Linked DNA regions of Homo sapiens. The protein of the gene in region 1 interacts with the protein of each later gene in a biochemical or structural test. Each region holds a gene or a part of one and is shown in the gene's direction. Other genes may lie near its edges.

Evidence for each region.
Region 2: the proteins of CYLD (region 1) and RNF166 form a complex in vitro, tested with the Homo sapiens proteins (one study listed by BioGRID).

Annotation. Positions count from the first base shown.
Region 1 is NC_000016.10:50,797,582-50,801,233, forward strand, and holds part of CYLD (ubiquitin carboxyl-terminal hydrolase CYLD), read left to right. Parts: 3' UTR 1-3,652. UniProt on the Homo sapiens protein: Deubiquitinase that specifically cleaves 'Lys-63'- and linear 'Met-1'-linked polyubiquitin chains and is involved in NF-kappa-B activation and TNF-alpha-induced necroptosis.
Region 2 is NC_000016.10:88,699,882-88,703,533, reverse strand, and holds part of RNF166 (E3 ubiquitin-protein ligase RNF166), read left to right. Parts: exon of another isoform or gene 1-744; intron 745-2,115; coding exon 2,116-2,272; intron 2,273-2,583; exon of another isoform or gene 2,584-2,593; coding exon of another isoform or gene 2,594-2,914; exon of another isoform or gene 2,915-3,652. UniProt on the Homo sapiens protein: E3 ubiquitin-protein ligase that promotes the ubiquitination of different substrates. In turn, participates in different biological processes including interferon production or autophagy.

The DNA of each region.
Region 1 (3,652 bases):
CAGCCATAGTGTGTGTTTAGACCACAGCGGATGTTGTAGACCAGGACCATAGATGATACATGTCAGTGCTGTGGAATGTGCATTCTCTGAGTGTTGTTTTGTGGTATCATTGTCTTTCCTGAATGACTTTCTAACTGTGCAGAAAGGCAGAAAAGTCATCATATGTATATGTCATATGACTTTATAAAATATTTAATGTGACAAAAAGTGGAAAGAATCTTTACAAACCCTGCAATTACTTTTTTAAAGGCACTTTTACTCTTTGGTTTTATCATTCCATTTTGCTAATATTTACTAGCTTTATAAATTACAGTAAGGTACAAAAACTCATCTTGTAATATTTTCATTTTTGAAGTGAAAAAGTACATATATTTTGCACAAGGTTTTATACTGCTAAGTGCTTGGTTGGGGTGGTGAGATGATGATTAGATCAGGGGTGAGGCTGAGAGACTCTGGGTTTAGGGCTAGCCCTGCCTCCATCTCCCTTGGGTAAAATGAAGGGTGTGGGGTAAAAGATGCATAAGGCCTTTTCTAGCTCTGACAGCCTAGAAGTCCAATCACCCTGTAATAAATATGTGTTGAATGAAGAAATGGGTGAATGAGCTTGTCAATGTGATTTTAAAAAATTGACTACCTGGAGGAATGATTAGGAATCTAAATGAAGCCAGCCCTCGGTATCTGCAGGTTTCTCATCCATGGATTCAACCAACTGCAAATGGAAAATACGATTTTTTTTAAAAAAAGGATGGTTACATCCGTATTGAACATGTACAGACTTTTTTCTTGTCATTATTCTCTGAACAATACAAGAACTCTTTATGTAGCATTTACATTTATTAGGTATTATAAGTAATCTAGAGATTATTTAATTAAAATATACAGGAGGATGTGTGTCAGTTATATGCAAATTCTGTACCATTTTGTATCAGGGAATTGAGCATCTTCAGATGTTGGTATCTGCAGGGATCCTGGAACCAAACCCCTGCAGATACTAAGGGCTGACGATCTAGGTAAGACTGGATTTAACAGTTGGAAAAAAAAAAAAAAAAGGAGAGAGAAGACAGTTCCTTTCCTGTAGAAATTAAAACAAAATACAAATTGAGGAAGCTCTGCTACCCAGGCTGTCATGGTAGAGAACTTGAAGAAGACCTGTTTGGATGGACACCTGGTTTCAAAAGTCAGGTGTGGAGACTGTTAAATGGGAGGGCCTCATCCATAAATGATTTCTGGCAACGTCTTCTTCAGGTGGAGCTTGACGTCTTTTTAATGTTACTTGGGGAGGGAGTGCTCATTAAGGGATGCCAGGGCCAGCTCTGGTGGTTCCTGGGGAGGCTGCGTCCTTCCCTGCTTCTGCATGTCATGAGGCAGCAGGAAGGTTTCCCCTGCACCTGTCTGTCCTGGCTCCCTCTGGGTAGCCCCCTACTGTTCTGTGCTTCAGCACAGCCTGGTTTGTCAAGAGGCACATAGTTGGGGCTGGGCTGCATGGCACAGGGGCTTATGTGCCTGCTGGTTATTTAATTTTCAGCCTTAAGTTTTCTTTAATATTTTCCTGTTGGCTATTTAAAGGTTTTGGTTATCTTTTATTCCTTATCTACAATCAAGATGACAATGTAATTGAATTATCTTATTTATAACACGGTTCGTGATTCATGATTCATGATTACAAGTAGAAAATATGTCATGTTCCTCACCTCCAAATAAATATGTGTGTGTCTGTGTGTGTGTATATATGTATGTGGCGGAGAGGGAGAGAGTGGGGAAGGAGAGCAGTGTTATCATACATAGAGAGGCTAAATGTGTCCCATCCCTCACTGTCAGCTTTATAAAGGAGTTTGACTCCATCCACAGAAGAATGTTTTATAAGACTAGGAAAACACGTTGAAAACTAGGATAAACAGCAACAAAAATCAACTAAATATGTTGTTACTGTTGCTAAGGATTTTCTCCTTAGAATAATTTAGGATTTTTAAAAATTTCTGTTTGCCAAATGCTGTAGATAAATGGCCAGATTCTTCCTATCCCTAGGATTCCTTTATTATTTTTTTTCACAGATTTTGAGAACAAGGGGGAGAGATAGTATGGAAGATTAAGATTCCATTAATCTTATAGAACTGTGTTGTCACCCAAATTCCTGCTTGTTTGAACATGGCATCTTCATAGATTCAGGATTCACTACCCTCTATAGCTGGATCTTGAAAATTATCTGGCCAGATAATTTTGCATCTGCTTGGATGATTGTAGACTGAGATGTGAGTGGAGGATAAAGTATTAGACTTTTGCTGAGTAACTGCCAACCAAGAAGTATTTATCGGACACTTACTAGGTGCCTAGGATTGTATCAGAGGGAATATGAAATGTGTCCCTGCCCTACCTAGTTTTAACGACAGAATATCTATTAAAGGCTACTTAGCTGAAGGGTAAGGGTGACAGGTCTAGGGGAAGCTTTGGGAGGTGGTGTGCTGTGACAGAAAAAGTGGCAGAGTAGGGACGAGAGACCTGCATTCTAGCCCTGTTTCTGTCACTTGCTCTGTACACTTAGACAACAGCTTGACCTCTTGAGCTTTAGTTTCCTCCTCTGCATAATGAGAGGGTTAGACTACTGAATTGTATGGGAAAAAAATACAAATTCCTGGGTCCTAGGCCATGCCTGCTGAATCCGACTGTTCAGGAAGAGGCCTAGGAAATCTGTGAGGGAATCCCCAGGGGAATCTCGTGACCAGCCAGGTGTGAAATCTGCTAACTGGAAGATCTCAAAGCTTCCTTCACTTTTTGTGATTTTGTGGTCATGTAACGTTACTGTATTATTCTACGTAAATGTGGGTACTTGGATGTTTATCATACTGTTTCTCTGTGTTTACATACTAATTTGTGTAAGAAATGCATTTTAGTCTGTGTACCTCAACCTGCTGTTTGTTTCCTAGAGGTGTTAGTAGTCTTTAAATACAAGTAAGACTTAAGAGGATATTTGATGTTATTTACCTGGATATTTTCTTCCCCTTTTATTTATTTAGAGGAAATTGAGATTCTAGGAGCCAAAAAAATGAAAACAAAATTCTAAGGCAAAGTTAAAGAAAAAAATTACATTATTTCTTACCATTTGCTACTTTATAATGAAAATTTAAAAATTATATGGGAAGATTTTTCTCTGGGATAACAAATCCTTGTCATAAAGTAAGAGGTCTTTTTAAAGTAGGTAGGCTATAAGGCCTGTAATTTAAAATAATACTCCTTTCTCTAGGGTTTGGTGCAATTCTCCATTAATGAAGATAACATTTGAATTCCCCAAAGCAGGTGAGGAGTCGGGGAGGAGAAAGCGATGTTAAAATGAAAACTCACTGCAAAAGAGGAGGCAGAGGAAGAAGGAATGTAAACCCCTTAAAGCAGATGTGTGTGGGGCCTTATGAAGACCAGGATTCTGCGGGTGTCAGGGGATTGCCCCTCTTGACAGAGACTAGGGTTTTAGACTGAGGCTTCCTGCAGGGTGTTCGCATTGCCCTTCTCCGTTCCCCTTCAGACCTTTCTGGGGAGAAGAGGTGGGAGGAGGGGAGAAAGACTGTTCATCTTATTCTGAATCCTGGAGCAGCTGAAGGTTTTCTCTTGAGTCAGGATGCAGTGGTAATGCATTAACCAGCAAGTGTGGCCAAGGATAATG
Region 2 (3,652 bases), about 38 Mb from region 1:
TTCTGCCTCCTGCTCCTCGGGCCCAGCCGCCCTGCCAGTCGGGCTGGGTTCCCTCTTGTGTCTTTCCTGAGTCCTTCCGGGGAGGACGAGGCTGTCTTCCTCCCAGCCAACCTTCTGGGCACCTTTCCTCTCTTCCCAAGCTCTGCCTGGGACCCTTTTCCTTCCCCTCAGCCCGTGGCCGTGCTGTGCAGCCGAGCCCCGGCCTGGTCTCTGGCAGCTCAGGGTTCACTCAGGAGGTGCACCATCCAGTCGTTTCCAGTGTGTTTGCAATTATGCAACAATCGATGCAATTCTAGAAGATTCTTCCCACTCCAGAAAGAAACCCAGGACTCTCCCCCTCGCCTGGCACCCACCCGTCTGCTTTCTGGTCACTGGGTTTCTCTCTGCTGGACGTTGAGCGTGAGTGGACCCCCACGACACGGGTGGGACGTGCTTGCTGTCTGCCCTGCACTGTTTTCCAGGCCTTCCGGTGCGTGGTGGGGCTGCACGCCTCTTCCCGGCCGAACGCCCTTTCCATGGGTGTGCACGCCACGCCGTCTCTTCATCCGTTTACCGACGGGCACCTGAGCTGCTTCCGCTTCTCCTGCCATGAGTGCCTGAGTATGGGGGTCCCCTGAGGCCTCCCCAGGTGGACCATCTTGCCAGCACCTTCCTCCCGTGAACGGGTGAAGTAGGCGGCCCCCCCGGCTCAAATCCAGGGGTCAGTGCCAGGGATGACCCTGGAAATATCTGCTGGGGCGCCTGGTGAGAACTCGGGTGAGGTGGGTAAAGTGAGCGACCTCTTTACTCTGCAGAAAAAGGCTTGTTCACTTTCTGACGGGTCTCAAGCTGAGTCCCGCTTTCTCTCACACGAAGTTTCATGTGGGAGCCACCAGCCAGGTGGTGGCTCTGTGGGAATCCAGTGGTGGCAAAGAGGGCCTGGGGGACAGCAGGAGGGACTTAAGATGCCTGCTTGGCCACCTTTGCCTGAGGCCCTCAGACTTCCTCCTTGCAGAAAGGGCCTTTTCTTGAGGGATGTGGAAATCTCTTGACAGCAAAGAGGACTCTGGCCCTGAATTCAGCTGAGTCGTTTGTGAACCCAGGGCCTGCCCACAGCCCCTCTGTCCAGTGGGGCTCCTGTACCAGCCCTGTGGCCTTGCCAGGGAGAAGGGAAGCTACACCCCCGGGTGCTGTAGCCTTCCTGGGACTGGGGGGCTCTGCCTCAGTTCCAGCTCCTCGCCGCAGCTCAGCTGTCCCCACAGTGCTCCTCACAAGGCCAGATGTGGCTGCCCCAGTATTAAGCTCCTTCTCTGTGTTTGCACTGGGGGCTCTCGCGCCTGGTGCTCCCACTGGCTGGTGGTGCACCCCTCCAAGGGCTGTGTGCGTCTGCAGAGCGGGAGGGTGTGCGAGCCCAAGGAAGCCCCTGCTGCTGGAGCCCGGAGTGCGCACGGGGCTGTGGGACGCTCAGTCTGTCCTCACGATGTGGTGTCCCCAGGGGCAGTGCCAAGAGCCAGGGCCCATGGGTGCCCAGGACCCGAGCCTCCGCCCAGATGGAGCAGGACCCCCTCCTGCCTGCGAAGCTGTCCCAAGCCTGGTGACTGCCACCCAGCCTCAGGATGTGCTGCCACTTGGCTAGCTTTGGCCCTTCCCTGTCCAGTGCATCTGGAGCCCCTGGGGCCTGGCCGTTTCCTTTCCCACGATTGTTTGAGGTTTTATCCCCCAGAGTGTGGAGCCGGGAGAGTTTCCAGAGTCCCCGGGCTGTCCCTGCGCCCCACAGCCCACCCAGGTGTTGTCGCCACGTGAACGTGAACCTGGTAGCCCGAGCTGGGGCCTCCTGCCTATGGGAGCTCCTCTGGCCCACTCGCGGGGACAGCCATAGTGACGGCTCTGCCGCTAGCCAGAAACCACAGGGGCCTACTGTCAGGAGGGACCGGGGCCACCCTTTAGCCAGATGGGGCCCATCCAGCTGGTGGGCCCCGGACATAGGAGTGACCATCTCCAGAGACGGCGACAGCGGTAGGGGGAGCTGCCCCTGTGGACCCCACAAATGCTGGGTCCTAAGAAGGGCCCCGAGCAAGGCCTGCGGTTCGGGAGACCCGAGGGGCGGGCTGGCACTCAGGCCCCTGTGCCCTGCAGGTTCTGCGGGGAGTGTCTCCAGCCCTGCCTGCAGGTGCCATCCCCGCTGTGCCCACTCTGCCGCCTGCCCTTCGACCCCAAGAAGGTGGACAAGGCCACCCACGTGGAGAAGCAGCTCTCATCCTACAAAGCGCCCTGTCGAGGCTGCAACAAAAAGGTACCCGCCTGCTTGGGCCGCCCTGGAGCCGGGGTCACTTGATGGGCAGCCTCAGCCCACGGGTTCTGCAGAGGGTGGGGGCCGGGGCCCTCTCTCTTTCCTGTTGAGTAATCGCGGTCTCTGCTCCTGCACCAGGAAGCCAGCCCCGGCGCCTCCCTCCCCTCCCGTCTTCATCTCTCACTTCCTGTGGTGACGGCTGACGGGGGGGCCAGCCCGGTGGGGGTAGCACTGTCAGAGCCGCCTAGCCCGGGCCAGGGGAACCCACGTGGGTTGTGGCCAGGGTAAGGACCAGGGGGCTGAGCTGAAACCTTCCCAATGCAGCCTTCCCCTGCCAGCCGATACCGGGGACGGCGCTGGGGGCTCCAAGGTCACAAGGGCCGCGGGCACAGTCAAGGACATCTAAGGGCCGAGCACCCTCCAGCTGCCAGGAGGGCCAGAGCCGGGCTGATGGGCACTGCCACACCCACATCAGAGCAGCGTAAGGGCCTGCAGCTTGTCATGGGCCTCATTGGCCCCCATGTCCATCCTGTCCTGGTGCCTGGCCCGTGCCCCGTGGCCCTCCCTGGCACATCCGCTTCAGGGTGGAGAGGCCCCAGCCAGCGCCCCGTTCTTTCAGTGGCTTCCGGAGGACTGAGCAGCTAGAGGTGATTTTGCATTTGCGTTTCCCGACGTTGCCACATCTCAGGTGAATAAGTTCTATGAAGCGCTCACACTAGTACGTGGCCCCTCGGTGGTTTGTCCTCGAGGTCGAAGGTCCAGATGTCCAGGGGCTGCCCTGGACTCCAGAGTGGTGCGGCTGAGCAGGCTGTGGTCTTGGGTGCTTGGGCACCTCCCGTCTCTCCCTGCTCAGAGTTCTTCTCTCCTGGGCAGCCAGAAAGGATCAGAACCGGTCACATGCAGAGCGGCCTCCCGTATCCCACAGCAGCTCCGTTCTCTAATCTGGGTCTTCAGATGCGGCTGTGTCTCCCGGCACCTTGCTGGAATGTGGTGCATCCCTCGGAGTCCAGCAGCCCTTAGGCAGAGCTGGGTGCCGAGCTTGAGTCCAGGAGGGCCTCAGACACCTGCGATCTTGCAGCCTGTTGCCCTGGACAGTGGGTGTGCTGTGGGTGGAGGATGGCGCCCTGCCTCCACGGAAGCATCCCCAGCTTGCCCCTCAGTCACACGAAGCGTCTGTCCCCAGCCTGGGGCATTTCTGAGTGGCCTCCACTTGGCCTCTTCCTTTTTCTGGAGCAAGTATTTGAACTCCTGCAGGCGCCAGAGATCTCCTTACCTGTTTCCCGCTACCCTTCTCCAGCCAGGTTTCTGCCCTCGGCCAGATTGTCCTGCAGTGACTTGCTTTTGGCCATGGAGTAGTGGCTGCTCAGTGCCTGAGATTGTTTT